Regions from separate parts of the Homo sapiens genome. Here regions 2, 3, 4, 5 and 6 are each reported to be linked to region 1. The links are microRNA targets in miRTarBase. Many come from high-throughput screens and were not tested one by one. Region 1 holds a microRNA gene; each other region holds the end of a gene's coding sequence.

Region 1 (5,428 bases):
AACAGATATTTTGAAAAGGAAACAGAAACTCCACACACTTCCCTGTTTGCCTATTTCCATGTTTACATTTCTCTAACAGCTAACACTATGTTTGGTTAGTTTAACTAAGTTATCCTGCTCACTTAAAATTCTATTTTTTTCTGGTTATATCTGACAATAGCTCAAAGGTTCTTAAAACCTAACATGTTTGGGGAAAAAAAAAGGTCACACTTAACTGCATTTCTTCTTGTCACAATGACACCCAAATTTAATAAATATTTTACGAAAAATACAGCAAAAGGGCAGCACTGACTAATAACGTGCACTCAGTACTGCCGGGCGTGCTCCTTCTTCACGTCTTCCTCCCTTTTACAGAGCTTTCCTTTTAAGTGTGAACTTTGAGTAGAAAGAGGCTGGATTAATGATAATTGGTGAGTCCACAGGACTCACACGACAGCCAAGAAATACCACACTTTGCAGGACTAATGAAATCTCCACTGTTACATCTTAATAACATCTTGAAAAATATACCGGGTAAATGTAATGAAGGAAAAAAGTACACTTAACCTACTTTGTAAAACTGAATTCTACATAAACATGTGCACTGTATATACCGTGTACAGGCATTTCAGGTGCGTGAACACACTTACCCGTCATGGTCGGTGACTCTCTTCGCTGCCCTCCATCGTCTTTCCCTTCATAAACCACCGTAACATCATAAATTGCATCTAAATAATTCTTCATGCAATCAAAAGCAACGTGAGTTGCCTTTATTCGTGGTGTTAGCACATGTTTTAATACTGCAAGGCCTAGAAGTCAATTCAGTGCCGTCATTAATTAGTTACAAAACACCTCCACAATATACTGTTTAACATCTAAATTATTTTTAAATTCCCTCAAACACACACAACAGAATCTATTAATTCCACAACCTCATATATTTAGGGCTCTAAGTTTAGAAAGCACTCTCACTTGCCTTTTTCTGTTTAAATCAATATTCATTTGCTATATATTGATCAAATATCTACATGTACAAGTCACCGTGTTGGAAGTTTATGGCCTAGCGGAAACGCTTCAATCTAGTAGACCCCGGCAAGGGTAAATATTAGTGCCCTCGCTTCTGGCCACTGAACAAAGGTGATAGCATCTTGCCCATGGTGACTCAAGATTTCCTAGAAATACAGTCACACAGCACATGGCCTCCTGTTTCTGGCTTCTTTCGCTCAGCATGGATCTGAGGTTCATCTGTGTGGCTGCAGGACTCAGTGCTTCATTCCTTTTTATGGCTGAATAGTTAGTATTCCACTGTGTGAACAGATCACATTTTGTTTACCTATTAATTGCTTCATGGACATTTGGGTTGCATCCATACTTTGGCTATTATGAATAATGCTGCTATGAACATTCATAGGAATTGCATATGAAGGCTGCAGGTGAACAAGCTTTTGTATGAACATACGATTTCAATCCTCTTGGGTATATCTGACATATTTTTAAAAGGTTCTTTAGCTGGGGGACTACTGCAATTATCCAGAACAAATCCCATTCATTAGGTTCCTACTAGGGTTAAGGATTTGTTCTTCTCTCCTTCCTATTACCTCCCTTTTCCTTGATTAAAATATTTACTGACAATTTAACAGAAAACAGTAGCTCTCAATAAGTGACATGAAAATAGACTATAAAAAACTAGTCTAGATTTTCTACTGGCCTCTCTGGAGGGAAAGTAGCTGAGTAAGGAAGAACAGCTATTACATGGTGGGACTGTCCCACACAAGAGGTTTTAAAATGCAGGGTGGTGTGGGAAAGACAAAGATTCCCACAAGCACGTATCTGACTTTAGTCCCCAGGGCAGGGGCAGTTAAATTGATTCACAAACTTGCAACAAAAATCTCAATCGCACACCAAGCTGGGAAGCATTTATTTGTCAGTTAAACTAGTTAACACTTCCTTCTTTGCTACTGGAGCTCATCCAACTTTATGAAGTCCAAAGTTTCAAAATATCACTCTGTGGTGTTCACTAAAACAACTAATTACTGGCATCCAAGTAAGTTAGTAAGGAAATAAAGACAGAAAGCTAGTATTTTTAAAACATAAAAGGAAATGAATTATCATGAATGTTTTAAAAAAATAGCTTTGTGACTAGGCTTCTGCTCCAGAACGCGTAGATAAAGCCACACCATAACTAGAAGGGGAATGGCCAAGAGGAAGACATGCAGAGCATGCCTGCGTGCACCCACCTGCCATGCAAAGATAAGTGGAAGAGCAGGAGGCAGGGAAACAAAGAGAACACGGAGCCGGGCGCGGTGGCACGTGTATGTCTGTAGTCCTAACTACTCAGGAGGACTGCTTTAGCCTGGAAGTTGGGGAGTGGGGGAGAGAAGGAAGAGAGGGAGGGAGAAGAATGCAGAAAGAAAAGAGAGAGAGGAGAGAAAGCAAGCAAGCAAGAGAGAACGAGTGAGGGAAGGAAGAAAGGGAGGGAGGGAAAGAAAAGAAGGAAGGGAGAGAGAGCGAAAGAAAGAAGGAAGAAAGAAGGGGGAGAGAGAACATGAGTTCAAATTGGGCATACTGAGGCTGAAGGAACAAAACATTCTAGAAGTAGTTGGAAATATGGTCTGTAAAATGGCAAGAATCAACCGAAGCTAAGCATGTGGAAACCATGGGAATGGATAACTGAAGTAATGGCAGTGGCTGAGAATAATAAAGGGCAGAAGATGAAAAGGCAAGAAATACAGACTCCGGAAACATCCACATTAAAAAAAAAAAGGTAAAAATAATAACAGGGAATACGACAACCCAGGAAATAAAAAAAGGGGGGAAACCAATGTAATACAAAAACAAAGGGAAGAGATGTTTAAAGGAAGAGGAGGTGATATTTATCTTCAACAAGAAAAATTATACTCCATTGTTTATTTCTACAATAAAGTTAAAATTATTTCCTGGTTATAAAGGTATAAATAATGTCAAAAGTTATGTGAAAGTTAACAAATATGACAACTGACACAAATGATACGATGCTTTGGAGGTCAGTGGTTAAGTGAGAAGTGGGATTCATTTCTGGAGAGTGGATGGAGTCAAACACAAGAAAGCAAGGGGCCCAGACTTCTCTTTGCACAGCTATAGACTTAGTTATTTCAGAATTGGAGTACATTTGCAAGCTGGGAGAAACCCCTGCAGAGAAGTAAGGCAGATGACTGAGGCAACGATGGAGACAGGGTAGACGGAATCAAGAGCTTAGAAACTGTTGACGTTGCCATGTCTAAGAAGAAAATTTTTCTCCAAAGTTTTCTTCTTAGACATGGCAGCTTCAGCAGTTTCTTCCAAAGAAATCCAAGTCAAGAGACTCCACATTAAGATTTTGAAATCAAAAGGGATATTGGGTGCACTCTTTCCAGAGAAATATAACTTTCTGAAAGCAAAAAATCCTTGAATGTGAAGAGAACAAAAATCCGTGAAAACCATGAGGTAGTCAAAAGGAGAAAAATAAAAGAACTGCTCCACACAGACTTGGCTCGGCTGAAATGAAATGGCCTGGCTTGGCTGCAGAAGGCAGTCAGCATTGATCTTACGATGTTCTCCACTGCTAAGGAAGGGAGAAAACAAACAGGGTTGCCAAGGGCTGAGGAAAGGCAGGGCAGGAACAGAACAGCCCAGCACTGGGATGGGCAGACCCCGGGGCTGGGGCAGACAAGAGCTGCAGAAGGCCCTGCAAGCTGCAGAAGGGCCAAGGAAAGAGAGATTAGAAATCAGCCAAAAACACAGGTTTAGAGCGAGTGAGGAGGAGGGAGAACCAGAGTCAGCTATATGGTGTGGGCGAGCCAGTGCCATTTCCAGATGAACTTCAAGGTGGTAAAAGCAGAGCACTGGACCCAGCACAGGACCTCGAACCAAGCACAGGATCCCAGACCAAGCACAGGACCCCGAACCAAGCACAGGACCCCGTACAGGAGAACAAGATCCCCCCAAGCCTCCACAAAGGACTGCAGCCCTGCCAACACCTTGATTTCAGCTGAGTAAGACCCATTTCAGACTTCTCAAATGTAAGAGAAGAAATCTGTGGTGTTTTAAGCCACCAAGTTTGTGGCCCTGCCTGAGAGCAGCCACAGGGAGCAAACACACCTTCTTAAGAGCGAGAGTGCCGTTACCACACAAAGCTGAGCACTAGCTTTCTTGTTTGCTATGCTTTCTCAGAAGTTGGCTTCAAAGTATTCATTTAATTTCTACTTCTTTGATTATGAGAAAGAATAAACATTTGTTCAAGTGTGTGGGTCATTTGTATCTCTTGAATTTCTTATTCATGCCCTTTTCCCATTTTTCTAGTTTATGTCTTTTCTAATTATGAAGCACTTTTGTAATATTAAGTATATTAATATCCTATATTATAAAATATTATTAGCTTGCCATTTGCCAACTAAATTTGTTCATATGATGTTTGAGACATAAAAATAATTTTTATTCAGTTAAGTCTACAAAGAAAAAAATTGCTTTGTAGCTTATTCCCTTTGTTCTCCTGTTTTGAAAGAACTCTCAAATCTCTACAATCGCCAGTGTTATTCACCCTATGAATAACATGGAAATTCTAGGTATCTGGTTTGCCATTATAGACACATCATTAAATTTCTGTTTTCTTTTAAGAGAGTTCAAAAAGCTTAAGTATGTCACCTTCGCTAGCAACTATGGTTTTAACCATGGCAATTAAAAAAAAAAAACCACCATAGGGGCTTACTTTAATGGGTCCAGGTGGCAGATTAAGATACATTTAATTCCACATCCCTTATAACCATTAGAAAGCCAAATACCTAAAACAAGTCTAAGGAAAATTAGTTAAAACAAAACCCTTCGAACAGCTGAGAAAAGTTTAAATATTACCACAGTGCCTGCACTTCTGCAGGACCCCATCTGAACAGCTTCTTCCTCCATGTCTAAGTTTCCTATAAGAGGTATGCAACTGCTATCAATTTGTTCTTTTTGTGAATAAAACTTAGGCAAAAAAACTGAATGATGGAGTTACCAAGACAAGAAATATGAGTGTATGCATGGAAGGATAAATTCTATCTTCAATATGCTGAGTTTGAGACATCCTTTTGGGCCAGTCAAGCGAAGCTCTCTAATGGACAATTGTACAAATGGGTCCAGAGTTAGGCAGAGAGACATGGAGGGGAGGAAGCTTTTGCGAGTCATCAGCAGTCAAGGAAACGATGGCTAAAGCCATGGATTTAGAGGAAGGCCACCATGAGAAACAAAAAGTGAAATTAATCAAACACCAAAACCTGACACTGGAAATAACACATGTAGCAGGGAGAAATGAAGCAGAAAGAGGCTGGAAAGGAGGCTAGGAAGTAATCGCCAGAGAGTTGGGAGGATAATGGAGAACAGCCCCACAGAAGTCTAGGGAGAGAATTTCAAATCAGACCAAAACAAATTGAGGGCAGAGTGAGTACTGGAAAAAGTG
Region 2 (5,386 bases), not on the chromosome of region 1:
CACCCTCCCGAGTAGCTAGGACTACAGGTGTATGCCACAATGCCCAGCTAATTTTTGTATTTTTCTACTAAAAAGTAGAGATGGGGTTTTACCATGTTGTCCAAGCTCGTCTTGAACTCCTAGCCTCAAGTGATCTACCCACCTCAGCCTCCCAAAGTGCTGGGATTACAGGCGTGAGCCACCACACCCGGCCGAAACTGAAAATTATAGACAGTGCAGTAATGACAAATCCAGCCAGCAGACCCGTACTCAAAGAAAATGCCCATAAGAAATAGCTAATGAATATTCTTCATATGCTTCTTGTTAAAAAAATTATCTCCTTTTATGATTCTCTACTCGAAAAAAATCAACCACTTTCATTAGTAGACCAAGGTCTCATCAGGTAAGGAAGGCTTTTACTGTTCTATGATTTTCATTACATTGTAGGCCTTTTTAAAAAATAACATAGTGATTGCCAGGTGCGGTGACTCCCTCCTGTAATCCCAGCACTTTGGGAGGCCGAGGTGGGCAGATCATGAGGTCAGGAGATCGAGACCATCCTGGCTAACATGATGAAACCCTGTCTCTACTAAATATACAGAAAATTAGCCGGGTGTGGTGGCGGGCACCTGTAGTCCCAGCTACTCGGGAGGCTGAGGCAGGAGAATGACGTGAACCTGGGAGGCAGAGCTTGCAGTGAGCCAAGATTGCTCCACTGCACTCCAGCCTGGGTGACAGAGCGAGACTCCATCTCAAAAAAAAAAAAAAGTGATAATCATCCTATTGCAGGTCATAATGGTTCCTTTAATCTATATGAGTATGAGTTCCCTTTGCCTGAGAGCTACATAAAACACATCTTCTGTATATTTGATATTAAAACCCAATCCTTACTGTGCTTTCTTCACAGAACATTCAGAAGATTCTCGGCCTTGCCCCTTCACGAGCCGCCACCAAGCAGGCAGGTGGATTTCTTGGCCCACCACCTCCTTCTGGGAAGTTCTCTTGAACTCAAGAACTCTTTATTTTCTATCATTCTTTCTAGACACACACACATCAGACTGGCAACTGTTTTGTAGCAAGAGCCATAGGTAGCCTTACTACTTGGGCCTCTTTCTAGTTTTGAATTATTTCTAAGCCTTTTGGGTATGATTAGAGTGAAAATGGCAGCCAGCAAACTTGATAGTGCTTTTGGTCCTAGATGATTTTTATCAAATAAGTGGATTGATTAGTTAAGTTCAGGTAATGTTTATGTAATGAAAAACAAATAGCATCCTTCTTGTTTCATTTACATAAGTATTTTCTGTGGGACCGACTCTCAAGGCACTGTGTATGCCCTGCAAGTTGGCTGTCTATGAGCATTTAGAGATTTAGAAGAAAAATTTAGTTTGTTTAACCCTTGTAACTGTTTGTTTTGTTGTTGTTTTTTTTTCAAGCCAAATACATGACATAAGATCAATAAAGAGGCCAAATTTTTAGCTGTTTTATGTACAAGGAGAGATCTGTTTCATTTTGTTTTGCCGTATTTCTAGATATAAGTTTTAGCATGGGCCAGGAAGGACTAAAATAAAAGTTTTTAAGGTACTGTACTTTTTGCCATACTTGACTCATATACTCAAAATACAGAGTTGTCTTGGTGTAGGAATTGGAAAGCAAGAGTGGAAAGGAACGTAATAACTCGTTGGAGTTTAAAAATGAGGGTCTTGGCAAGTAACACTGATGTCTGAAAAAAAATTAAATATAAATAAATAAATAAAAATGAGGGTCCTCAGCTGTTCTCTTCATATCCTATTACAGTCTCTCAGATTCTTGTGGGGGCACTCTTAGATCTCCCTTGGAGACAAGGTTATAGTTATATGTTGTTAATCTCGCAGAGCTTCCTTTTAGTCACAATAGCCTTCATTTTCTGCCATGCCCCTTCATAAGGGAGAAGGATGTTTGTACCATGATCCTCCCCGCATAATCTATGGAATTAGGAGTCCTGTGTGGAGTCTTATCAATAAATATGCACATTCATCAAATGTCTACTTAAATGTGAGTATTCTACCAGTGAGAAAAAACACATAATTTTCAAGGTAATCATTGTTAAACCAACAGCAAACTTCTTTCTTATCAGCACCATAAAGTCCAGAAGACAGTAGAAAAGTATCTTCAAAGTGCTGAGGAAAATAAGTATCAACTTAGAATTTTATGTACAATATTGGAGGCAAAATAAAGACATGTTTAGACATACAAAACTAAGAGAGTTGAATTATTAAAGGTTATATTCCAAGGACAAAAAAGAGGATCTGCCCAAGGTGAAGGTATGGCATACAAGAAACAATGGTCAACAGAGAAATAAAATATATGGATGAATATATGGATAAATTTGAGTGTTTTATGGATTATCTAATTTAAGGATTATCCCAAGACAGCCCTACAAGGTAATTACTGTTCTTACCTTCATTTAACAGATGAGGAAACTGGGGCAGGGGAGGTTAGTAACTTGCTCTGCATCACAGAGCTATTGAGTGGCAGTCAGGATTTGAATTCAACCAGTGTAAAGCCTAATAGTCCAGGCTGTCAAGCTCTATATTACAGCCTCCTCATGGGTATGTGGTGATTCTCTTCTCATCCCATCTCCTCAACTAGAGTGTGTGAGCTCTCTAAAGTTGGACTTTGTCTTTTTTTTTGTTCTCCTTATTACAAAGTAGTCAACGTGGGTGGAAACACAGCAGGAGCTCAATAAAAGCAGATGAAAGGGAACAGAAGTCCCTATTCTGAGACTAGTTTTATCAGAAGGATGTCTGATAATGGATGGTAATGACTTTTAATGGTCTTTTCTCCATATCATTGACCACTCTAAGCAAAATAATAATTCGAATGATAATGAAGAAAATGATGCCCATGATAACAATAATGACAAATATGAAATGGCTAAAATAAAACATGAAACCATCCTCAAAATTCTGCCATCACCTTTTTAAAGTGAGAATATATAGCACACTCTATCACTCATACCCTGAGGCTTTGAAGTTGGTGCTTTCTAATCAGACTTCTTATGGACCAGGTTTTCATATACAAATTATGTTTCCATGGTAAGGAATAAATAAGAGGGAGAAGTTAAAAAGGAGAGATTACATCTATTCACCCTATTCATTAAAATTTTTTTAAATTTTTTTCCAAATATGTTCTGCTTATGTATATTCACTCTATTCTTAAAAGCACAATAACAAAGATATATTACAGAGGAAATAAAACTATCACAAGAATTAAATTCAAGGAGTTATTAAGGGCTACTGCAGCCTCACAATTAGTTTTTTAAAATTTCTTGTCCTGAAGAAATTTCAAGACTAGTTATTTGGATGACACTCTAGGTCCACAGCATCACCAGATCATTGGAGATGACATTTCAAGACAGGCCTCTGAACATCTCTCATAACACATAATTTGGTTATTTTCCCTATGTAAGATGGATTGTCTCCTGTCTAGGGAAGAAAAACAGCCATTACTAATATCTGCATTAGTCTACTCAGGTTGCAATCATAATATGCTAAAGTAGTAAACTTTTAAAAATGACAGTAAACCTGAGTTTATTAACAGGTTACATTCTAAAAGCTAAGCTAGTTTGGAAATTGGAAAGCAAATGTGTGTAGATATTCATATGTCCTTGACCAGACTGGGCCTTTCTCTTCCCAGGTAAGTCATTCTCTCCAATGGGGCCAGTTACTTAAAATTACATCAGACAATTGATAGAGCTTCTAGATCCCCCTTCTAAAACAAAAGCATTTTGCCACAAACTAGGATGGAGTAGGTTTTTTTCAGACTATTTATACTTATTTTATGTATTTCAATACTGCCCTTTAAGTAAAAGTACTATATACTTTCTCTTTTTTTAGATTAATTCTGCTTAAGTCAGTCTTTTAATTTATTCTAGTTTGAGTTTTTAAAAAATTTTAGAATGAAAAATCTCAAAAATATACTATTATGTATATACACTATTTTATATATATATATATATATATATAGAGAGAGAGAGAGAGAGAGAGAGAGAGAGAGAGAGAGAAAGAGAGAATAAAGAACACCTAGGTAACCCATCCTCCACCTTCGACAATTATCAGCTCCTAGCTAATTTGTGTCATCTGTAACCCCACCTGCTTCTGCCCTTTCTGTATTATTTTGAAGCAAATCTTATCATTTATCTGTAAATATTTCAGGACTTTAAAAAATATGTGTAATCTGAATACCATTTTTACACCTAAGAAAATGGACAATTCCTTAATATAATGTGTTGTCTATAGATGTCAAAAATTTTTGCAGTTTTTTGGAATCAGGAACCAAGTAAGGTACTGAATATTGCAGTTAGCTGATACACATCCTAAATTTCTTCAATTGTTGTGGTCCTCAAACTAGAGTGTATCAGAATCACTAGAGCCTTGTTAGAACACAAACTGCTGGGCCCCACCCCAGAGCTGGTGATCTGTAAGTCTGCTGTGGAGTCTGGGAATTTGCATCTCTAACAAATTCCCAGGTGATGCTGAAGCTGCAGGTTTGGGGTTCACTCACCTATTGGTTCATCAGCATCTCTCTGCCCTCTTACAATATATTTGTTGAAGAAGTTGTGTTGTTTACCTTGTAGAGTTTTTCTTAGTTTGGATTTTGGTGATAGCATGCTGGTTTTTTCATACTATTGGTTGTCTCTGTAATGCGAGCAGCTTTTGATCTATTAATTAATGAGATATTAAAAGTGATGGTATTCTAATTGTAGTATTCCTTCATTTATGATCTAAAATACCTCTAAATAGGAACTTCCTCTCATCTACTTTTTGGGGGAAGTTAAGAATAAATGCCTAACTCCTTGGTCTTCAAAATAATGAGCTGTTTATTAACATCCTCCAATAGTGAATAATTAATGTGTATGTCATTAGCAATTCATGCATTTAAACATATTTGATGTACTTCAGTCCACTGAAGCTATTTCTCTTATGAATGCTCAAATTGTCCCATTTTTGGCCAGCGAGAGCCTCTTTCATTTGGCTCCTGAGTCTATTTGCATGACCCTCGTTGTCATTGGTAGCATCCTTGCTAAGTGATATAACAAGATGTTCTAAGGCTCATCTTGTGTATTTCCTGCATGACTTGAAAACAACAATTTCTCCAAAGAGGCTTGTTTCATCTTTACTGGAAAATGGCATTTGGAGATTGTGATCAGAGCACTAGGAATGGTGAGACTGGGTTTTTAGGTTTCTAGGCCTTTCTGTGGACTAACATTGGTATTATTTGTTGTTGTTTTAATACAAAATACAACATGAAGTTATACTGATACTCAGGGCTACAGAATTTTTACTTAATTTCTTTGGTCTGTGTCTCGTTTATCAAACCATACTAAGAATTCCAATTTGCAGCAGCCGGCTGATATAATTAGAATATT
Region 3 (5,000 bases), not on the chromosome of region 1:
AAAATGTTTGGAAAAGGGTAATTCATGACTAGGAATGCATCTATTTGACAATCTCTTCTTTATCAGTGGTACTTTGTCTTCTTGGCCCTTTTCTCCCTTCACTCTACCATGAGGGGGTTACCAACCTCCTTTAAATGTGTATGAATCAAGACCTAAATCAGCACCCTACAATTCAACATCAATAATAATTTTAAGTCAAACATTCAAAGCACTGTAAGCAAAATGCTAGATAATTTTGAGAAAAATAAACACTCTCCCACAACCAGGGACACTTAATATTCTTTTTATGTGGAATGAAATGTGCTGAAATACTGTAACATAAGAAAACAGCTTTAGTTTATAAACTAGCTTATTCAAATCAAGTGTTTCACTTTGGACTTAAAATGATGCCACTTGTATATGACACGTTTAAGGCCTCTGACTCAAAAATCAGCTTCCTTATAAGTCTGCTTGGAAACAAGTTTTAAGGATCGAATCTTTTAGAAATTATCAGTCATCTCTGCACTACAAGGACAAATTTGAATACTGCATTGTATAATAATACAAGATATTCACATAATAATAAGTAACATTTTTAATGCTAGGGCACAGACCATGCTCCTAATAGTTACTGAAATTGAGTTCTACTGTTATCAAAACACCAGAATGTTGTGCCAATAGATACACTCTACACTGATGGCAATCTTTGATTAAGAAGAGCTGATGGTTAGTAGCTCAAGAATTGTACTTTAATGTCCTTAATTAGATCCCTAGAGGGCCAACATGTAAACTTTTATTCCATATATATTTTTTAAAGTGCTGCAAACAAATGTGTCTCCACACATGAAAGAACATAATTCTTAGTATGTTTAGGAAGGCCACCTGATTTGTCAAAAAAAAAAAAAAATCACTCTTGCTTAATCTTGCATACTTCCCATTCCATTTTTTTTCCCAAAAAGATGTAAGAAAACTATGTTTAGCTTAGGGCAACTTGCAACACCCACGTTTTAATCCCTCCACAGAAGGAATAAACTAGAGAAGCAAGTTAGGCATGGGCATTTAGGGACACAGACAAATTAGATAGATAACATAATGTTAGTTAATTCCTCATTATTATTTTGCTGGGACTTCATGGAATAATCAAGCGGCATGACTACATTAGTTGTTAAAAACAGGGTCAAACTGACCAGCAGTCAAGCGTCAAGGGTACCACTTGACTATGCTAATTTCATGGGAAACAATGAAGAAATCAACCATGAACCATTAGCAAAAGATGGAACACACTAATGTCTTCACTTGGCTAACACATCACAAAATTTCCAGGTATGTTAAATTTTAGCTTCTGAAATCACTTTATTCAGGAGTGAATCTTCATAGTACTACACCTGACCTTTAATCCAAAGAAAAGTAAGAGAAAGGAAGAAGGGTGGGGTGGGAAAGTGAGGTCTTTATTCACTTTGCCACTAATATAAACTGTCATTTTAATTTTTAAAAAAATTCCTCTATGGCAGGCAAAAACTCAATGAATAGGAAAGATTTCATTCTGCTCTAGTACAAAACTTAAGACATTTAATCCTCCTGAAAGTTGTAAGTCCATAGATTTTCAAAATTCCCAAGATGAGAATTTACTCCCTTTAATAACTAATTCCAAGAGTTTAATAAGCACAGTAAAAAATGAAAAAACAAACAAACAAAAAGCAAACCCCTGTAAATTCTGTGAGGCTTAAAAGCTTGAGTTTAGAATGAGCAAAGGTTTAGGTTTTTAATCCTCAATAATTAAATCAGATGGTCCACAAATAAAGCTTCACCTTGAATTTTCCAGGATCAGAACACTAAAGTACTAGTGCTAAATTTCAGCAGACTAAAGAGTCATTTTTGAAAGGAATTTGACAGAGTATCAGTGTCCAACCGGTAAATGGACAACCTAGATAACAGATAAAATACAATGAAATAAGATCCCCTGAATAAATACTTGACACTTAATATGTAAACAAAGCCCTTACAATGAAGGGGTTTAATTCTGTAAAATATCAGTGTTCTATTCCTTTCCATTTGTTAAATTTACCCACTGTAGAAAATATATACTGAATATAAAGTGACAGAAACTTATGTTGGAACATATCAAAACATATGACAGAAACATATCAAAACATGCCTGGCACAGTATAAATTACTCAATAAATATTTGTTGCACGAATAAACTTCTAGATCTAAAGCTGTAGTAAGCAAATGTCAACTCTGTGTCCTGAAGTAGCAAAGAAAGGAAGGCAAGCTTTCTGAGTAATGATGCATAAAGCTCAATTTGATAATTGTTATCTAGTGGTATATTCTTAATTTACAGTTTTAAATTTAGTATTTTCTGGGAGAAGTAAAAAAGATACAAAACCAAAACCATCCAGATCAGATGAGAGTCAGGTGTGGAGAGATTTTCAATCCCATTAATTTGAACACATTATGATTGCCAAACATTAAGTATCATAAGCTCATCAGTGCTATTTTTAAGGCTCAGTAAAATAGAAAACTAAACACTTTTAAGTTATGCTGACCATAACAGCTTATATTGTCTAAAATAACTATGCACACAAAAGGTACTCAAGAAATGTCATCTGACAATTTCAAACAAACTTTGTGAATTGTTCCTTAAAAGTTCTTTTCTCTTATATTGTTCAAATGTTCCTTAATTTTATATGGCCACCTTCACCAAGTGAAAGTGCTAAAAATAAATGTCAATTTTAAAACATTTGCTAGGCAGATATGCTGAAAAAGATCCAAGTGCTTTAAAGTATACCACTGAATTTCTAAGTGAGATACTTAATAAAAAAGAGACCAAAATAACAAAACTTCACATTAAGCCTCTTCACATTATGTGAGATAATACATAACAAATTATAATTTAGCATCCCTGATCAGAATAATTAAGAAAAGAGGTAGAAAACTTTTATCTGGAAGATCTTGTAGTGAAGCTAAGTTTTAGAGGGTGTGCCTTGCGGATTAGTCCACTAAGCAAATGGCTACACATCTAGTACTAGGAAGAAGCAGAATTCTGAGAAAGCTGCATAAGGCAAGGATTTACAATTTTTTCTATTTTGGAAGTGAAACTAGTTCATTCAACAGTATTACTCCAATTGCTTTAAAACTTCAAAAATCAAAGTAAAAGATTGCAGATAAGCAAAGTGCTAATTTGCAGAAATGTGAAATTATTTAAAATAACTTTAGTGGAGGGATAAGGCTAGCACAAAAGCAAACACTCTTTAGGTGTGCAAAAAATCTTACAAAAACCAACCCAAAGCAGAGCATTATTACTTGAAAAAAATTTTTTGGAGGAAGTGCTCTTAACAAAAAGCTGAGAAAATTAAATTCCCCCCGATAAACTTTACGCAAATGAAGAAAAAACTGAGGACTCGAATTTCAAGGAATTTCAATTAAAAAAGTACCCTGCTTAACTTTAAAATGTTATCCAATGTGACAAAGACCAATACATGAATTGCATTAAAACACGAGGCCAACGGTCTTTTAAAGCTTCAGGAAGCTGCTCAGGCACCTATTCCCTCATACATTCTACGTTTTATATGCTAGAGATCTTAAACAGGGCACAATCAGTTCCTGTTTTGTGATAACATTCTCAAGGATGAGACTCATCCCTGTAAAAATTGCTTGTGATGTACTTATCAGTGGTTAAGCACACATTTATAATGTCTACCAAATTGCAATATAAAATCAGTTTGGACAATTCTGAGTATCTTCATTTGATGAATCAATTCATAATTTAGAAACTTAACTCATTCAGAGTTTTTAAAAAGACTCAGTTACTGGAGACACTGTGGTAAATGTCCAGTGGACTCACAGGAGGCCTTCCACATTACCCAAAATGTGATGCTTTCTTCTACAAGTTAAAGCTGCTGGGTGCTAGTTTATAATACTCAATCTCAATCGTATGCCCAGTGGACTCACAGGAGGCCTTCCACATTACCCAAAATGTGATGCTTTCTTCTACAAGTTAAAGCTGCTGGGTGCTAGTTTATAATACTCAATCTCAACCTTCAGGTCAGTGTCAGTAGGTGGCAAGGATCACCTATTCTGTCACTCCAGCAGAAAGAGGCATGTATGTACAGTTTACCACTGTAGACACACATCTGTAAACTTGCACACTAATTTTAATCTTAACAAGGAATTTCAGTGTCTTAGTGGTTTTAAGTTAAAAGGATGGTTCAAGCATTGTATCCTTTGTTCTTTAGGGTTACCATAGCTTATTGGAAAACCCAGAGCCTTCTGGATGTGTGAGGTAGTAGGCTTCAACCCTCATTCATGCATAGGTCACACTTCTCCAAAGTTGGTATGGCCTGTCTCCTTGGCATGTTCCCTTGCTTCTGCTTGTCCAGTTAATCCTTTCTGACATACCATGCATCTCAGGGTGAAGCGGTTGACATCAGTAAACTGTCTCCTTCTTCTAGCTTCATCTGCTAATTCCAGTGCTTGTACAAGAACAATATCATCATTAGAGGAGAAAATGGTCAGAGGAGGTGTATCTGGATCAGGGAAGTTACGCTGAAGTGGATCATAGTGGATGCCATCATAAATAAGCAGAACCCTTTTGGTATATCCTGCATCTTCCCCAAAACGATCAATTCTTACTGTCTGTGTATCCACTACACATATTTCACATTGGTAAAACTTGGACAAAATCGATATCTCTATTGCTCCTCCCCAAGTGTCATCCCTTTTGATCCAGTCACAGTACTCTTGATTTGTTTTTCCCAGTATTGCCTCACTATAGAAGTCTGGATCGCTTGCTACAATTTGTGCTATGAGGCGTCTCATCTCAGGGGCACAAGCTGGATTCAAGACTCCTCCTTCGACGACATAGTACACACTAGTAAAGAGGCAAGAGTTGTCTGCTGGGACCACGGTTCTGGTAAGCACAGGCAAAGTTTCCCTGACGTAACTAGAAGCACCACGTTTAGTAAATGCAGGTGAACTTCTGGGCCTGGTTTGGTCTTCTTCAATGATCAGCATGTCACCTG
Region 4 (5,415 bases), not on the chromosome of region 1:
TTTCCTATCTTTACAACATTTGTTTTAGGAGCATTTCCTCCCTCTGCTATTTATACACGGAAAGACTTACTACAGCGATCTACCCATATTGCCACCAAGACTTTCCAGGCTCTTCGCATATTTGTGAACAATGAGCTCAATGAACTCTACACGGGACTGAAGACAGCTCAGAAGTTTCTGAGACCTGGTGGTCGTCTTGTTGCCCTCTCCTTCCATTCACTAGAGGATCGCATCGTCAAAAGATTTTTGCTTGGAATAAGCATGACAGAAAGATTTAACCTAAGTGTTAGACAACAAGTGATGAAAACATCTCAATTGGGTTCAGATCACGAAAACACGGAAGAAGTCTCTATGAGAAGAGCTCCTTTAATGTGGGAATTGATACACAAGAAGGTACTTAGTCCACAAGATCAGGATGTACAAGATAACCCCAGAGGGCGCTCAGCCAAGCTTAGAGCAGCTATCAAATTATAAGTTATCATCATCTTATTCTTCAAATTTTTTTCTCACAATTTCTCTAATCTTTACTCATGTTATGTCCCTGAATGTCTTGGTATAGGTTTAAGTGTGGGACAGTCTGAAAATTGATAGCATTTAGCATTTCTTTTTTCTCAAAAAGAAACTGTAGGAAATACATGACAGAGAAAGTTACACTCAGGGAGCAGCAGCACCTCCAGACTGGAAAAATATGTTAATCTTTGCATCATATTGGACTCTTGAAGGCAATCCTTCCTCTGGCCAGGAAATTTTTTAAAAAATAATACTGTGTTGTGTTTATCTAAATACGTAAACTCAAGCTACCAAAGAGAAAGATGTTGTAATCATATCTGCATGTCCTAAATTTTGAATTTAGATATTCCAATTTGCATCAGTCTTTCTGTGGCTCAAATAATGATGATTATGGAATGAATTTTAATGTCCCTACTTGTGAATAATTAGCTTTCTCAAATGTAGGCTTTTTACAAATTTTAAATTTTAAAATATTAGTTTAAATGTGTGTTATACTGATAAAATTTCATCTTTCAAATTATAGTCTATTATTTTAAAGGGATTTTTCAGTATGATATGGGCCATTTTGTTCATCTATCGCAAAGTAAAAATGTAAAATCCTTACAGAGAATTGTTTCACAAAACTTATATTTCATGTCAATTGTATTTATTTTAATAATAGCTCACAATGCCTTTAGTAAGTAATAAAGTCTCTTATTAGAATCTTGTATTTTTTAATTGAGCTAATCAAAATAATTCAGCCAAGTCTATTTGAAATAGAAAACTGTCTATTTAATATAGTAAAATCAATGCTCCCTTAATGTTGTTACAAAGATATGGTAACTGTAATATGGGTAAAAGTTTATTCAAGAAAAGAGTACTTGGTAGAAGATTCTTTAACAAATTGAGGAGATTGATTCATAATTCACATGTCAATTTTTTATAGTAATATGTACTTCTAATTTATTATTTATACTTAAATTGTGACCTGAAAGATGAGTTGGAGATAATTAGTCAAAGGGCACATGGAGTATGGAAGGGGGCATGTTGATTAACCATACATAGAAATAAATATTCTCTTAGTTATCCTTGAAATCATATTTATACTATTAATTTGCTCAGTGCACTTTTTTCAAATACAGAAAAAAGATTCTCCATTATAGTTACAAATTTTAGGTTGGTGAATCCAAGTGAATGAAATATCAGCATAACTATGTGGGCAAAATAGATAGAATTAAATGCATGAATTTTCCTCAGACTTATTTTATCTGCCTCTGTAATATTTAACTTTAGTACCCAGGCTTGTTCACTACTTCTGCTTTACAGGCTTTATTTAAATCTGAACAATCCTACAGGGAAATCAGAATTAGGAAAAAAATCTGGAGAACAATATGGTTGAAATAGAAACAAGAGAATGCACCTAGGTTAATTCCCTGAATCCTACTTGAACATTGTATAAATTTCTCTTTGCATATAATACATATTTGTGAATGAGACATATTCCCAAAAAATTCTTATCTCTGTATGTGATTGGAAAAGAAAAGATCACATTTGTATATTCAACAATCTTTCACCTATTTCATAAGTCATTTTTTCACCCTGTATAGTATGGGAATTATTTTTTATGTTAAATAGAAACTGAATGTACTGGGTTGAATGGTGTCCTCTCCAAAATTCATGTACTTCCTGGAGCCTCAGTATGTGACCTTATTTGGAAATACTGTGGTTGTGGTTGTAAGTAGCTAAGATGAGGTCATACTGGAGCAGGGCAGGCCCTTAATCCAATATGACTGGTGTTCCTTATAAGAGAAGATAGGGCGGGCATGGTGGCTCACGCCTGTAATCCCAGCACTGTGGGAGGCCAAGCCAGGCAAATCGCTTGAGGCTGAGGAGTTCAAGACCAGCCTGGCCAACATGGCGAAAACCCATCTCTACTAAAAATAAAATTAGCCATGCGTGGTGCTTGTAATGTCAGCTACCCAGGAGTCTGAGGCACAAGAATCACTCGAACCTGGGAGGTGGAGGTTGCGAGATCACACCACTGCACTCCAGTGTGAGCAACAGAACGAGACTCTGTCTCAAAAAAAAAAAAAAAAAGGAAGAAAGAGAAGATAGAGACACAGGGGAGAATGCCACATGAAGCTGGAGGCAGAGATTGGAGTGATACATTGTGGGAACCCTCAGAAGATAGGAAAAAAGCATGGAATAGATTCTCCCTCAGAGTTCCAGTAGTTGCCAACCCTGCTAACATGGTTTTGCACATCTAGCATCCAGAACAGTGAGAATGTATTTCTGCTGTTTTAAGGTACCCAGTTCATGGTAATTTGTTACAGCAATCCTAGGAAGCTAATACTCTGACAGAAAAAAATCTTGGATAATATGCATGAGAAAAATCCTTCAATAAACACAAAATTGGTTTCAAAATGTTTTCATGTAAAAATAAATTAACTTTTCTGTAATTAGATTGTGTTTTATAGTAATTCTTGCCTGCTTCTTAGTCTTTGTTGTAGGATGCATAATAAAATACATGAATGAGTTTTAAATGGTTAGCTTTGGAGAATGGTTTTGGGAAGTTCCTACAGTACACAGAAATAAAAGCTAATGTTACTATGAATGCGCATTACTTTTCTAATAAAATGTTTCTGAATCTCTGTCTTGACTGCCTTCTATGAATCATTTTAACATAGTATCAATGTCATTGTGTAGTACATCAGTTCTTAACAGTTTTTAGTTCATTACTTAAATAAAATTTAATAACTACAATTTTTAGATAATATCCCTATTTTTATTTTATTTTTAAAATTGTATATTAATTACTATGTTCTTTGAAGTTTCTAGGGGTGTTCTTGAAAGACACTATATCTATATGTCTTTTCTATTTCATGTAGTATATGATATATTATTTGTGCTTAAATTCATTGTAGTAAACTATTTGTTGTGCTACAAGCAGTAGTTTATAAGAGAATACAGTATGCCTAATTAGATTTTTTAAATGAACTAATATTTCTTAAAATTCACTTGCAAATATTTGAAAATCATATTTTCTTAAGTCTTTGCAGAGTATTACATACCTAAGGTTTTTAAAATTTTTGTTTCTAATTTTTGTTTTTAAGAAGTAGAGATAATGAATCTGTACTGCAGACTTTTAAAAAATAATTTTACTTTCATTTGAAATCTGTCATTCAAAAAGTATGAGACAGTTCTTAATGGGACTTAATGGCTAAAAAAAGAGAAAAATATATGTATATATGTACTCAAGCGTATATTAGAAGCTAACTGTTTAGGAAGAAATAAAAAAATACCTTTTTCACCACTCTCCCTCTTTTTATATACCATCCCTTCTTCTCTGTTCACATTGGTATGTAAATTTGAGGTGACATTAATTATGTTTCAATTTATCTCTGGAAAAAGAAATATTAGGTAATTTTGGCACATACCATGACAAACTAAGCCTTACATATTAGAATCTTTTTAATAGATTAAAAACTAAATTAAAAATTGCTTCTGGTTAAAATTTTGTAAAATTTATTTTACTGCAATTATTTTTCTATTTAGTTTTCATAATTGCTTCAGTATCCTAATTGATATTTTTGTGTAGCAGCATTCTATAATAGACAGGGATAAGCATTTAAACATAAAGAGAATTTTGTGAGGTGCTTGATAAATATAAATTTGAAACTCTGATCAAAGATATATTTTTCTCATAACCACAATGCCATATGTTTGATGTTGATTGAAGTATGGTTTGTAAAAATCAACCCTATATTCTAAAGAGGCTGGGTTGTATAACAAACACAGCTATTTTTATATTATTTTCTCAAATCTTATCTGTTTATAGCTACTATATCCAACTAATGTTTGGTAACACAGGATGATCTGCAGGAATGCTAAGAGAAAGTTTACATATAAATTATTTTTTTAAAGTCTAGTTGCAGCATAAAATTTTAAAAACATTTAAAATGAAGAATTGTACAACATACAATGGTCATAATTTATAATGCTTGTCACTGACTTTTTGGCCACCTCACTTCCTTCTCATAATCTGCCCAAATTATTAGGCAACAAAGTAAAGAAAATTTAATATTTCAATATGCACAGCAGGAGATTGTGTCTTTGGTAATGTTACTTTAAATACTGAACAAGTTTTCTACTATTAGCTGTTGTCCTATTAAATATATCATTGCTCAAATGTTAGAATACAAAGGTGAAATCAAACAAGAGGACATGCTCCACTTGATTCTTGAATAATTATTTCTGTTCGTTAAACCCCATCTTTATGCTTTGAGCAATAACACTTGTCTGCCTTGCACAGGTGAAGATTTGTATTATTAAGCCATCAAATGATAGGATTCCTCATAATTTCACAAGGAAAAGTCTTATTATTCAAGTCTTATAGGTGCTAAGTTGAGGAGAAGACCGTATAGTATTGTGAATAACGCTATTGGCTGGGGACTCAGAAAACCGAGGGTTTGAATTCCGGATCTACATGTAATAACTGAATGTATGAACTTGGACATCCTATTTAATCTCTTGAATTCTCATTTGTTTCATTTTAAGATGTGGATATTATTGGTACTTTCTCATGTTGCTGTGAATCAAATAGAAGATAAATGTTTATGAACTGAAAGTTCTAAGAATGAAATGAGATAATGCACTGCTGTATTTTGGAGATGCTTTATTTGACCCCTCCAAATCTCATGTTGAAATTTAACCTCCAATGTTAGAGGTGGTACCTAATAAATGATGTCCGGGTCATGGGAGAGAGTCCCTCATGAATGGCTTAATGCTGTCCTCATAGTAACAATTGTTTTTGCTGTATCAATTCCCAGAGAGCTGGTTGTTAAAAAGAGCCTGGTTCCTCCCTCTTCTCTCTTGCTCCCTCTCTTGCCTTGTGATTACACACCAGCTCCCCTTTGCCTTCGACCA
Region 5 (5,428 bases), not on the chromosome of region 1:
CTTCCTTAAGCAAAAAAGGCAACTTACTGGCTCAAAGAATGTGAAGGCTGAGCTACAAATTTAACTGCAGATAGCTCTGGATCCTGTTTCTCAATCATCATCAGGGATTTCCCCACCTCTCATTGTATTCCTTGACTCTGTATGTTTCTACTTTGCTTTGTTTCTTGGCCTTTTCCCCTTCTAGCTACTGGCAGGTTCAAGTCCACCTCTGAACCTGCCACTTCAGAGGGACTATTTTCCTTATTGAGACACAGTGGAAAGTCCCAGGGAGTGGCAGATGTAGGCCAAGTTTGGGTCATGTACACATCCCTGAAGCACTGTGCCCAGGGCAATGATGTTTCATGATTGGCTGAGCCTCAGTAAGGGACCACCTCTGTGCCTGGAGTGCAGGGCACTGTGATTAGCAATGTCCCAAGGACCACAGTGGAGGGAGAGAGGGGCTCCCTAAGGACTCAGGAGATGGGGATTGGATGTTGGGCAAACAAACAAACAAACAAACAAACAAAAAAAACTAGAGTGGCCAGCACAGCCTCCTAGCCTGTCCTGGAAGTGTTTGCTAATGCTGTCTCTTCTTTGCCCCCATACCACGGGGTTAGGATGCCCATGATGCCACTGAGTACTTCCTTCTGGCCCTGGCAGCAGCGGTCCTGCTGGGTGATGAGGAGCTTCAGGACACCATTAGGAGCAGGCTGGACAACATCTGCCAGAGCCCCCTGTGGCACAGCAGGCCCTCCGGGTGCTCCTCAGAGAGGGCGCGGTGGCTGAGTGGTGGTGGCCTGGCCCTCTGAGGAAAGCTGTCCTGTCTCTGGACATTTGGCATGGCCAGACTCTGACCCCACTGCCCTAGGCTCTTAAATACTCATTGGGAGGGTCCGAGTCCTTACCTGGCCTAGCCCCCTCATTTCACAAGAAGAAGAATGAAGTCCAGGAGGAGAAGGGCTCATTGCAGGCCACAGAAAGATTTGATGGTGCAGCGATGAGAATTCCTGGTTCCAGGCTTTGCATCTGGAGCCTTTACCGGTTGACTGTTGCCTTCCACACAAACAGCCTCTGAAAAGCACTTTCTCCATACATAATTCTGGAGAAGATGAGGGATCTTGCCCTCCAGGAGCCTTCCTTCCTCCCCCAATGAGGAAATCAGTCACTGCACTGGTGCAAAGGCAAGCAGATTGGAATTTGTGCTCTTCACCGATTTTCTCAGGGAAAGACCCCTTCCCCTTGCCAGCAGAGGAACCTGTAGTTTTTTCCATTTCTTTCTTCAGAACCAAAGTATGTATCACTCCTCATGCTCACAGGGATTGACAGGAGAGAATTCACCAGGATCTTAGCTCAAAAGACACAGCCTCAGAATGGCCAGATGGATTGCACGAAACCTGACTTGGATTCACCATCTTCCTCCTGCCATAAGGCTGTGCTCCCACATAACCTCCCAGAAGCTCCAGGGAAGCTTTCCAAGAGCAAAGGCTTGGAAATTGAATGTTAAGAAAATTATGACATAAATTACATGTAAATAGTGTATATGATTAAATATTGTCCAGTTACATTTACACACACATTTTGTCTCATCCACAATGGGGGCAGATGAGATGGAGGACTTGATGGATGGGAGAGAATACCAATACATGTCTTTTTTTTTTTTTTTTTTTTTTGAGACAGTTTCTCCTCTGTTGCCCAGGCTGGAGTTCAGTGGTACAGTCAGGGCTTCCTGCGACCTCAGACTCCGGGGCTCAAGTGATCCTCCAGTGTCAACCTCCTGAGTAGCTGGAACTACAGGCATGTGCCATACCCAACTACAAGGCATCTTATTGATTTCAGGGCAGCTGCTTTACAAAGCATCTCTATTAATAACATCACTGCATAGCACACTGAGTGGCCTAAAACACTTATAATCTCATGGTTTCTGAAGGGCAGGAATCCAAGCATGACTTAGCTGAGCCCACCAGCTTAGGGTGGTTCACAGGCTGCAATCAGCTGGGGCTGCAGTTATCTCAACTTCAACTAGAGAAGGATGGGCTTCCAAGCTCACCCACACAGCTGTTGTTAGGAGTCAGTTTTTTGCTAGCTGTTGGCCAGAGGCTTCCTGCAGCCACTTGCCACGTGGGCCTCTCCACAGGGCAGTCACAACATGGCACCATGCTTCACTAGAGGGAGCAAACAAGAGGAGCAAGAACCAGAGTGAGCAGGAGAAAAGGGAGTGACTCTTTCTATAACCTGATCACAGAAGTGACATCTCCTTAGTCTTGCCTATTCAATTCATAATAAATGAGTCACTAGGTCTAGCTCCCACAAGAGGGGAGTGTTTACCAACAGCTTGAATACCAGATGGTGAGGAATCATTGGGGATCATTTCAGAAGTGACCTACCACAGTATCTGAGTTCTTTGATAATGAAATTGGGAATTCTCTAATTTCAGCAAACTGAAAATATGGTCCACTAACCAGCAGCATCAGCATCACCTGTGAGATTGTTTGAAATGAAAATCTGTGGCCCCACCTATGATCTCTGAATCAGAATCTCTGGATCCCAGAACGCTGACTCGTCCAAGCTTTCCTGGTGATTTTAATGCACCCTAAAGTATGGGAAGCACCACTGCAGGGCAAGAGCCCTCAGATAGTGTGCATAACTATTACCTGGTGAGGTTGTGGAACATGAACTTCTTGGTTTCTATCTCTAATAATTCTGATTCAGTAGATCTGGGATGTATCCCAGGAACATGCATTTTTAGAAAGCAACTCAAGCAAGCCTGATGCAGGTGGTTCACCCTTGCTCCTTTTCTGTGAACCACAAGGATACCAGCCATAATTCCCTGCATCTGATGCCCATCAGCTTAGCTTTTATTATCAGACCATCTGCCCTTAATTTCTAGCTTCTTGGGCTGACCAGATGATTGGTTGTATGAAAGGGTGAGATGGGAGTGGTGAGTTGAGCCGCCATTGCATCTTCTAGTCATCAAGGTTGTCTACTAATTGGCACACATTTTCTCTTAGAGATGTGGTTGGTTGTCAAAAGGCTGTCTACTCTAGAGAGTATTCTCCAGGAAGGAGAAGCTTCCAGTTGTCTAATTAGTAAAGTTATCTAATCTACTACCATGGAGAATAGATGTGGTTTTGCCCCCACCACAAGCTGTAAAAGCCCCAAGCTGGGAGGGACGTTGCGGTTGAGGCTATTCAGTCTAATCTCCCGTGCATAGTCCTTTCAACAACATTCCTGGGAGACAGTCAGGGGCACACACATTCCAGAACAGTTACATATCGTGTATTTGAAGAAGGCTCACACAGCCCTGGAAACCATGCCACTGGCCATTCCCCATCTGACTCAGGTTACAGATCCCCTCCCTTTTCCCACTGACCACTCACTCTCCTCTGGCCAGATTTGTTTCTGTTTCTCTGAAAGAGCAGTTCCCACAACTGCATGAGGCTTTTGATATTGGCCGGTGGGTGAAGAGTACAGAGGGATGTTACTATACTTAATTTGATTCTTCCTCTCCCCAGCAGCCACATCTGTCCTTGGCTTCCATTGAGCTTTATAATCAGTTGAAACTTCTGTGTCTTCTGACTTGAACTTCTGTTTGGACAGATCTTTCTCAATTGCTGCAAATATGCACATGCATTTGCATATGCATACACATACACACACATACGTGAAGAGCGTTGTTTCTATCCATGTTACATCTCCTTGGAAATTTTAGCTAAAATTTCCCAATTCTGTGCACTTTGATTTACCTATAAATCTGATGAATTTACCCATAACCAGGTCAGTTATAAAAATGTTTAGCATGTTTCCAAAGACAAGGGTAAGACTATTTTTTTAAAATAAGAAAAACATTGTGCTATATAATTGCAATTACTACATTCTATATGTAAACCGCTTGCTAAAACTCTTTTAAAAAGTGTTTAAAATTTTCATTTTTGAAATGTGGGCCAGCTATTCCCTTTGGAAACATGTTGATGCTGTCTTTTTTTCATGATCCACAGAGAGTAAAGTGGTGATTGGATTTGGTCTCTACTTAAACATTTAAAAAAATAAGTGTATCATAGCCAAACATGATCTAGTTACCCTCTTTATTCTAATTGTTCCCTCAAATCTTATATGGGCTGTGTGACTGCTGGCTCCTTACATCTAATCTAAATAAAGAACAAGAAGGGCATTGCAACATTGTGGAAAACCCTGTAACATGTTTTCTCAGCTTTCAGGTATACTAGTTCCCTGTCCAACAGTATTAACATTCTGAAATCCAATATTGCTTTTGTCCTTTTCTTATTTGCTTTTCCATTATTTTAAGATGCCTTTATATTGTGCATGTGTATATATATGTATGTGTGTGTGTGTGTGTTCATTTTCTTCCTCTTTGTAAATATAATGCACCTCATTTGGCAGAAGTTTATTTGGGGAAGGGAATATGCAGGAATGGAGGGTGTTAGGATGAGGGATCAGGAAGCCTATCACTAAAGGGAACCTGTATTTTGGTCTTGATTTTGATATTAAATTGCAGTGCGACCTTGGGCAAGTCACTTAACCTCTACACATCTCAGATATTTGTCCTCTGATAAAAGAACCTCACCTCTGGGTTTTTCAGCAGTGCTATTTTTATACTGTATGAATAGGATGAGAAATAGTATTGGAGAGATGAAATAATATATTTTTATAGCTCAATTATATTATCTTCTTTTTACAGGTGAGTAAACTGAGGAACAGAAGGGTAACTTTCTCCCAGACACATTGGTAGTTAGTGGCAAAGACAGTGGTACTTGAGGCGGGGGTCTCATGACTCAAGGACTTAGTTGCACAAATGACAGGATTTCTGCTGTTCAGGGCTTCCTTCACAGTTGTGTGTGTATATGTACACGTGTGTGTATGTATGCATGCATTTATCACGATATGCACCAAAGAGCCTTTACAAAACATTTTCTAAATTGATTTACTTCTTTTACTCATATTAACTTATTTTTATAAGGGATGACTAGTCTATATAGAAGAAAAACTTGTATTGTTTTCCATAAACAGAATTATGTAAATAATGGCAAATACAATGAAAATAAAATAATGCATTAACTTCAAGCTAGGTCCTGTTGCTCATTGCAAGCACCCAGCCTAGGCCTTATCTGGCATTGTTTGAAAACAGAGAGATTAATAAGTGGCAGAGAGTGTAGATGACAGACTAGCAACAACCACTTTTTCCTTGCACACTCAGAGAAATGGAGTAAGCAGGGAAGAGGACTGAGCTCCTTCTGAGGAGGGTCAGTGTCATTCAATGCCAGGTTTGGGCACACATTTCAGGGAAGTGGGGATTCAGCTGGGTGACAGGAAAGGGGCAAATGATATATTATGTAATATGATTCAGTATCAGAAGCATTGTGATTGGTGTTAGTTACAGGATGTTACAGGCACTGCGGGGAAGGGATTTTACCCAGACAGGGTTACGGGCATC
Region 6 (5,428 bases), not on the chromosome of region 1:
GGGGGGTGCGGCGAGGGTGGTCTCCAGGGTACTGACCTGCTCCGTGTCTTGCAGAGAGCGCCTGCTCGCTGTGCCCCCGGGTTATGACGACCCCCAATAAAGGAAACAAGGCCTTGAAGGTGAGTGGGCAGGGACAGGAGCCTGTGGGCTGGGGTCGGGGGGCACAGTGGGCGTGCCCGCTTGGCCTGTGACCACCTGCACTGTGCCCCAGGTGAAGCGGGAGCCGGGTGAGAATGGCACCAGCCTGACGGATGAGGAGCTGGTGACCATGTCGGTGCGGGAGCTGAACCAGCACCTGCGGGGCCTGTCCAAGGAGGAGATCGTCCAGCTGAAGCAGCGCCGGCGCACGCTCAAGAACCGCGGCTACGCTGCCAGCTGCCGCGTGAAGCGGGTGACGCAGAAGGAGGAGCTGGAGAAGCAGAAGGCGGAGCTGCAGCAGGAGGTGGAGAAGCTGGCCTCAGAGAACGCCAGCATGAAGCTGGAGCTCGACGCGCTGCGCTCCAAGTACGAGGCGCTGCAGACCTTCGCCCGGACGGTGGCCCGCAGCCCCGTGGCGCCAGCCCGGGGCCCCCTTGCCGCCGGCCTGGGGCCCCTCGTCCCAGGCAAGGTGGCCGCCACCAGCGTCATCACAATAGTAAAGTCCAAGACGGATGCCCGATCGTAGGGACGCGCGTCTGCCCAGGCGGGTCTTTGCGGGGCCACTAGGCACATGGCGAATTTGGCTGCCCTGTCCCTCTGTTTCCTTCTCTTCTCTTTCCTCCCTCTCTTCCCCACCCTTCTCTCTTCCCTGCAAAGCACAACCTGTACCCCAGGGGCGCCGGGCTGAGCCCCTTTGATCTCGTCATTGTCGTCGTGTGTTTTGTATGTTGGGATTGGTCAGTTCGGCGGTGACGTGGGGTCGCCCCAACCCCTTTTGTACCAGGGCCATGCAGGCTTGGAGTCCAGAGTTGGTGCTGTGGGAACGGACTAGAGAGAGTTGCGGGAGAGAGAAGGAGCAGGCACGCTGGGCCTCGCGTGTCCCCGAGCAGTGAGGGTCCCAGTGTTCCCTCCACTCCCGAGTGGCCACAGGCTCGCGGGCTGGGAAGGATTCACTCTCTTTAGCCCCAGGGGAGCAGCTCAGCTTAGCCCAGCATGAAGAGATGGGCTCTGCTCTGAGAGTAGGGCGGGCTTGAAGGCCCTGATGGGTGGACCACCAGCCTGGGCGCAGTGGTGCTGGGGGCGTGCAGCTGGGCCCAGGGGCTGTGCACTCAGGCCTGACCCGTTGCACTGAACAAGACCAAATCTCTGGTTGTGCGCTTAACGTGAGGGTGGGTCCAGTGTGCCCTGCGATGGGTCCCGTGTCACTGTTTACATGACCTATTTGTGTGGTTATATAGCCCTTTATTTAAAAGAGAGAAGTTCCTTTTACAAAGTTATTAAATTAATTATATGTTTAAAAGTTAAAGAAAAAAGAGCTGCAGAGTATTTATAAAACTGTCTTTTAGAAAAAAAACAAGCAAGAAGACCATTTGACCATATGAATGGAAAAGGGAAGAAAGTATAATAGAAACTTTGCTAGTTAAAAAAAAAAGAAAAAAAAAGAAAAAAAATCCCTTTCTTGTAAACTTACGGACACCTCTTTGTGGCTGTTGGAGTTTAGTTTTTATATACACAGAGTTATCAGACATTATTTATAAAACTTAGTTTAAAAAAAAGACAAAAAAAAAAAAGCCAAGCCGTGAGCCGACCAGAAGGCCGTCCTCTTTGATATCTTTTGCAATTGTACCGAAAGTGACTTACTCCTCTGCCCTTCCTGCTTCCGTCTCTTGCCGGTGCCGTGGTGTCGTCCGTGCCTGGTGAGGTTTTGTGCAGCGGTAAAGTGCTGGTGCTTCTGGTGACCTTTGACCTGTGGGTGTCACTTCTTGTGTCTGTTTTCCCGTGTTCGTTTTTTGGGTTTAGTTGTGCTTTTGCTTCTGCTGGCTTGCTGGACCTGGGCTGGGGTGCCAAGTGGCGCCTGCTGCGTCAGAGCTCAAGGAATCTGTGCCCACCACCAGCTCCTGGTCCGTAGGAGGTGAGACATGGGGTTCTGTCATGCCCCCCTCCACTGAGCCTTGGCTACATCTGTGTCTAGGGCTTGGGCTGATCTAGTGGCGGGGTAGGTGAAACTGGGGTCCCTTGGGGCGCCCCACGCTGCTTCCACACCCACCACCTCTGGCCTTGGGTGGTGGCATTACAGGGATGAGGGAGTCACTGTGGGTGGCCACAGGGCTATGGCCAAGCGTTCCCTGGCCGTCTTCCTCTGGCCTCAGCTTTGTTCCTATAGGCTGCCCGCGCCGTGGGCTGCAGGTCTCGCCGCCCGCTTGATCCCTGAGGTGTTTCCATGCTGCGGGTGGTGCTTCCAGGCAGAGTGGGTGGGGGCCCACCGGGCACCGCCCTTTCTTCCTTGTCCCTGCCTCACTCTGAGAGCCTTGGGGGTCTCCACCAGTGCAGACAAGGGCTACAGTCTCCAGGGCCGGGTCTTGTCCCTCTTCTCCGCTGGTCCACGCTGGCAGCTCTTGGCTTCGGGCCTGCCTTCTGCCTCCCTTTGGGATCTGTGTCTTCCAGGGATCAGCTGCTTGGCTTCTGCTGGAGGTGCCTCCCTGTGGGGGCGCAGCCTGCCTCCTGCTCTCAGTTCCTCGCCAGAGGCTGCTGCCCTTCCTGGCTGGGCTCAGGAGGCTCCTTGTAGGCATATGATGGGGAGGGGGTGCCCCTACCCACCTCCAAGAGGCTACAGCCCTGTGTCTGGCCATGTGAGCCCTGGCCTTTCACCGGGTTGCTGGTTTCTTTTCTGTGGGGCCCAGACTTCTGTAAAGCACACAGATGTGGGTAAGATGAAAAACTGTGGCCCAACAGGGCTTAACCCTATGGATGGTGGGATTTTTATCCAATAGTTTGGCCTGGTGTGCCCACAGGATGGGAACAGGGAGGCACCATCAACACTTGTCATGTTAATGAGCTTTTCTTTGCTCGAGGTGTTCAGAGACAAGTCCTGTGTCTACCTGCGTCAGCCTGAAAATGGAAATATTGGCTGTTGACTCTTGTCATTTAGTGACTTCATCCCCCTCCCCTCAGTCTGATCTTGTCTAAGTAGAATCCAGGCGTTAGTTGGAATCATATCATAAGTATCCATGAAGAAAACGTCATGATCTGCCTCGGAGTGGGGAGAAACAGGCCCTCCTTGTCCTTGTGCAGCCCCCACTTTTGTCCTGGCTGTGGGTGGCCATCCATTTTGAGCACCTCTGCCAGGCTGCAGACCTGGAGGCGAAGGGAGTGTGGAAGAGGAGGGTGTAAGGGTCGACGCGTGCTGAATGGGAGGTGCAGGTCCTCGGTGCGTTGGCAGAAGAGGCTTCTGGAGTTTCGAGGCCATACCTCCTTTCAAGAGCTTTGGATTTGGGGCGACTTCCCTGGGTCTAGGGGAGTGTTCCTGTCCCCTGTCAGGTCAGCCCTGCGGAGCCACTCCACCCCTCTTCCCCTTCCCCTGGATTTCCTGACATAGATGGTGTGTTCATGTGCAGGTGTGAGTGTGCTGTCCTTCTGATCTCTGTTGATCCCGCTTTCCTACTGAGAGGGTGGTGGAGAGGGTGGTGGTCTCTTCTCACCTCAGTTTTTCTGACACAGCGAATCGAGGGCTTTGGCCAAGGCCAGGTCTCTCAAACTTGTCCGCCAAGTAAACCATGATATATGTCTTCCCTTCCACCTTAACTTTGCCCCAACTCCTCTTTTATCCTAACATGGACGCTCAGATTTCAGAGGAATACCCAGCAGGGACAGGTCAGCTCTCACCAGGAGAGTGAGGCCCCTGGCTGCTGCTCGGGGTGGCACTGGTGTTGCTGGCTCAGCTCTTGGTGCATGTTTCAGATATGTGTGTACACTTCTGACTGGTGATCAGGGCCCGGCCCACGGCCCTGAGCGGCTGCAGCCTGCTTTGGGACGATGGTCAGGTCCCATGTTGTCCCTGCTGCCTCCCTCTGGAGTGGCCACTTGGCCAAAGCGCCCATCCACATCTGGAAAGTCGGAGCCGCAGCCTGCTGCACCGTTTCCGCTCTGGGATCTTGTGAGTTACTTTTTTAGGCTGTGGTTTGGTGAAAGGAACCAACACATTAACGATTTTTCCCCCAGAAGCCACTGAATAATTCTTTTTGGTGTATTTTTGCCTTCCTGTTGGCTGTCTGGCCTTGGAGCAGGTCGGGAGAGTAGAGTACATAATCAGTGCCACACAGAGGCAGGGCGTGTCTGAGAGACTAATGCCTGTCCTGCCTCTGGCCTGTGTCCTGGGTGTGTACCATACCTGCTGGGCCAGTCCCACACATTTCCACCCTGCCCCTGGAGCAGCAGCTTTGATACCATGGGTGTCCCTTGAGTCTGAGCTAGAGTGTGTCCCCGATAAACTGTGAGACCTCCCTGTTCTTGGTGACCCCAGTTGGGCTTTGGCCCCTCCAGCAACCTTGTGTCCCAGCCCTGCCCTTCTTCCCACCCCCTCAATCTGCTAGTCCCTGAAGCCTTTAACCAAACGGGAGTGGGCACAGAAAGCCTTCTCCTGGCAACAGGACAAGGGCTGCCCGCGTGTCCAGCCCTGTTGCTCTCCTGGCGCTGAGAGGTGGGTCCAAGCAGAGTTGATCAGTCCCTGCCTGCCCTGCCTAGGTCTAGCCAGGGGAGGTTGTGTGTGTGGGAGAAGACCCCGGGATCTGCTGGGGTGGGATGGAGGTTATTAAAGATCTAAGTGAGGAGGGGCTGGGGTTTGGATGCGGGGTGAGGCCCGAGCGCTCACACTTCGTGTAGGGCGGGCAGGGGCCTGACCTCTTGCAGGGCAGTGGCCTTGGTGCCCTACCCCTGCCCTGCGCAGTATTTATTGCTAAATTATTGTCCAGGAGGGGCAGCACTGGGCCTGGCCCCCCGGGTATTTATTGCTGTACATAGTGTATGTTTGTGATATATAAGGTTTTCTTTATTTTGTATATGATCAATAAACCTTTTAAAGAGACTGGCAGGTGCTTCTTTGGGGCGACGCGGCGGGCGGAGCCGGAAGGGGTGGGTGGGGGCGGGGCCCATCTTGCGCATGCGCCCTGAGCGCGGCCTGCCGTGTGAGGCGGAAGCGGAAGAGCAGGTCTCCAGGGGAGCGATGGCAGCCGGGGGTCTGAGCCGCTCCGAGCGCAAAGCGGCGGAGCGGGTCCGGAGGTTGCGGGAGGAGCAGCAGAGGGAGCGCCTCCGCCAGGTACGCCGCCGCCGCTCCCCGGCCCGGCCATGCCCGGCCCGCGCCGCCGCTCACCGTCCGCCTGCCCGCAGGTGTCGCGCATCCTGAGGAAGGCGGCGGCGGAGCGCAGCGCCGAGGAGGGCCGGCTGCTGGCCGAGAGCGCGGACCTGGTAACGGAGCTGCAGGGCCGGAGCCGGCGGCGCGAGGGCCTGAAGCGGC

What was found. Region 1 holds the annotated microRNA hsa-miR-4659a-3p (UUUCUUCUUAGACAUGGCAACG, at 3,225-3,246, opposite strand). A microRNA usually pairs through its seed, bases 2 to 8, with sites in the 3' UTR of a target mRNA and lowers its output. Matches are read on the target gene's strand: a 7mer-m8 pairs with bases 2 to 8, a 7mer-A1 pairs with bases 2 to 7 and ends in A, and an 8mer does both.
Region 2: miRTarBase lists TMCO1 as a target of hsa-miR-4659a-3p. Seed matches in the 3' UTR shown: 8mer at 1,349-1,356.
Region 3: the mRNA of YOD1 is a reported target of hsa-miR-4659a-3p. Seed matches in the 3' UTR shown: 8mer at 3,964-3,971 and 8mer at 3,857-3,864.
Region 4: the mRNA of METTL15 is a reported target of hsa-miR-4659a-3p. Seed matches in the 3' UTR shown: 7mer-A1 at 2,588-2,594.
Region 5: the mRNA of SH3TC2 is a reported target of hsa-miR-4659a-3p. Seed matches in the 3' UTR shown: 7mer-m8 at 909-915, 7mer-m8 at 912-918 and 8mer at 4,972-4,979.
Region 6: miRTarBase lists MAFG as a target of hsa-miR-4659a-3p. Seed matches in the 3' UTR shown: 7mer-A1 at 1,531-1,537 and 7mer-A1 at 3,149-3,155.

The regions. Positions count from the first base shown.
Region 1 is chr8:6,743,030-6,748,457 of GRCh38, reverse strand. MIR4659A (microRNA 4659a) reads right to left here and starts at 3,294; the gene lies at 3,214-3,294. It overlaps AGPAT5 (1-acylglycerol-3-phosphate O-acyltransferase 5), which reads right to left. Exons shown (of 8, transcript NM_018361.5): 6 at 630-788. It overlaps MIR4659B (microRNA 4659b), which reads left to right and starts at 3,218; the gene lies at 3,218-3,290. RefSeq lists enhancers at 1-133, 1,056-1,350, 1,952-2,001, 3,614-3,693, 3,724-4,003 and a silencer at 2,142-2,191.
Region 2 is chr1:165,723,622-165,729,007 of GRCh38, reverse strand. It overlaps TMCO1 (transmembrane and coiled-coil domains 1), which reads left to right. Exons shown (of 7, transcript NM_019026.6): 7 at 887-2,213. The coding sequence ends at 985. Among named protein-coding and RNA genes, the nearest start is that of ALDH9A1, 28 kb to the right of the region's middle.
Region 3 is chr1:207,044,727-207,049,726 of GRCh38, forward strand. YOD1 (YOD1 deubiquitinase) reads right to left here. Exons shown (of 2, transcript NM_018566.4): 2 at 1-4,997. The coding sequence ends at 4,294. It also overlaps a transcript of PFKFB2 not described here. Among named protein-coding and RNA genes, the nearest start is that of YOD1, 4.0 kb to the right of the region's middle.
Region 4 is chr11:28,330,368-28,335,782 of GRCh38, forward strand. It overlaps METTL15 (methyltransferase 15, mitochondrial 12S rRNA N4-cytidine), which reads left to right. Exons shown (of 7, transcript NM_001113528.2): 7 at 29-3,140. The coding sequence ends at 474. Among named protein-coding and RNA genes, the nearest start is that of MIR8068, 140 kb to the right of the region's middle.
Region 5 is chr5:149,000,071-149,005,498 of GRCh38, reverse strand. It overlaps SH3TC2 (SH3 domain and tetratricopeptide repeats 2), which reads left to right. Exons shown (of 17, transcript NM_024577.4): 17 at 597-5,428. The coding sequence ends at 788. Among named protein-coding and RNA genes, the nearest start is that of MIR584, 60 kb to the left of the region's middle.
Region 6 is chr17:81,917,841-81,923,268 of GRCh38, reverse strand. It overlaps MAFG (MAF bZIP transcription factor G), which reads left to right. Exons shown (of 3, transcript NM_002359.4): 2 at 55-119; 3 at 212-4,999. The coding sequence starts at 84. The coding sequence ends at 664. SIRT7 (sirtuin 7) reads left to right here and starts at 5,093. Exons shown (of 10, transcript NM_016538.3): 1 at 5,093-5,230; 2 at 5,302-5,428. The coding sequence starts at 5,138. It overlaps MAFG-AS1 (MAFG antisense RNA 1), which reads right to left and starts at 370. Exons shown (of 3, transcript NR_186500.1): 1 at 37-370. RefSeq lists enhancers at 1-360, 4,844-4,893, 5,012-5,428 and a silencer at 5,024-5,428.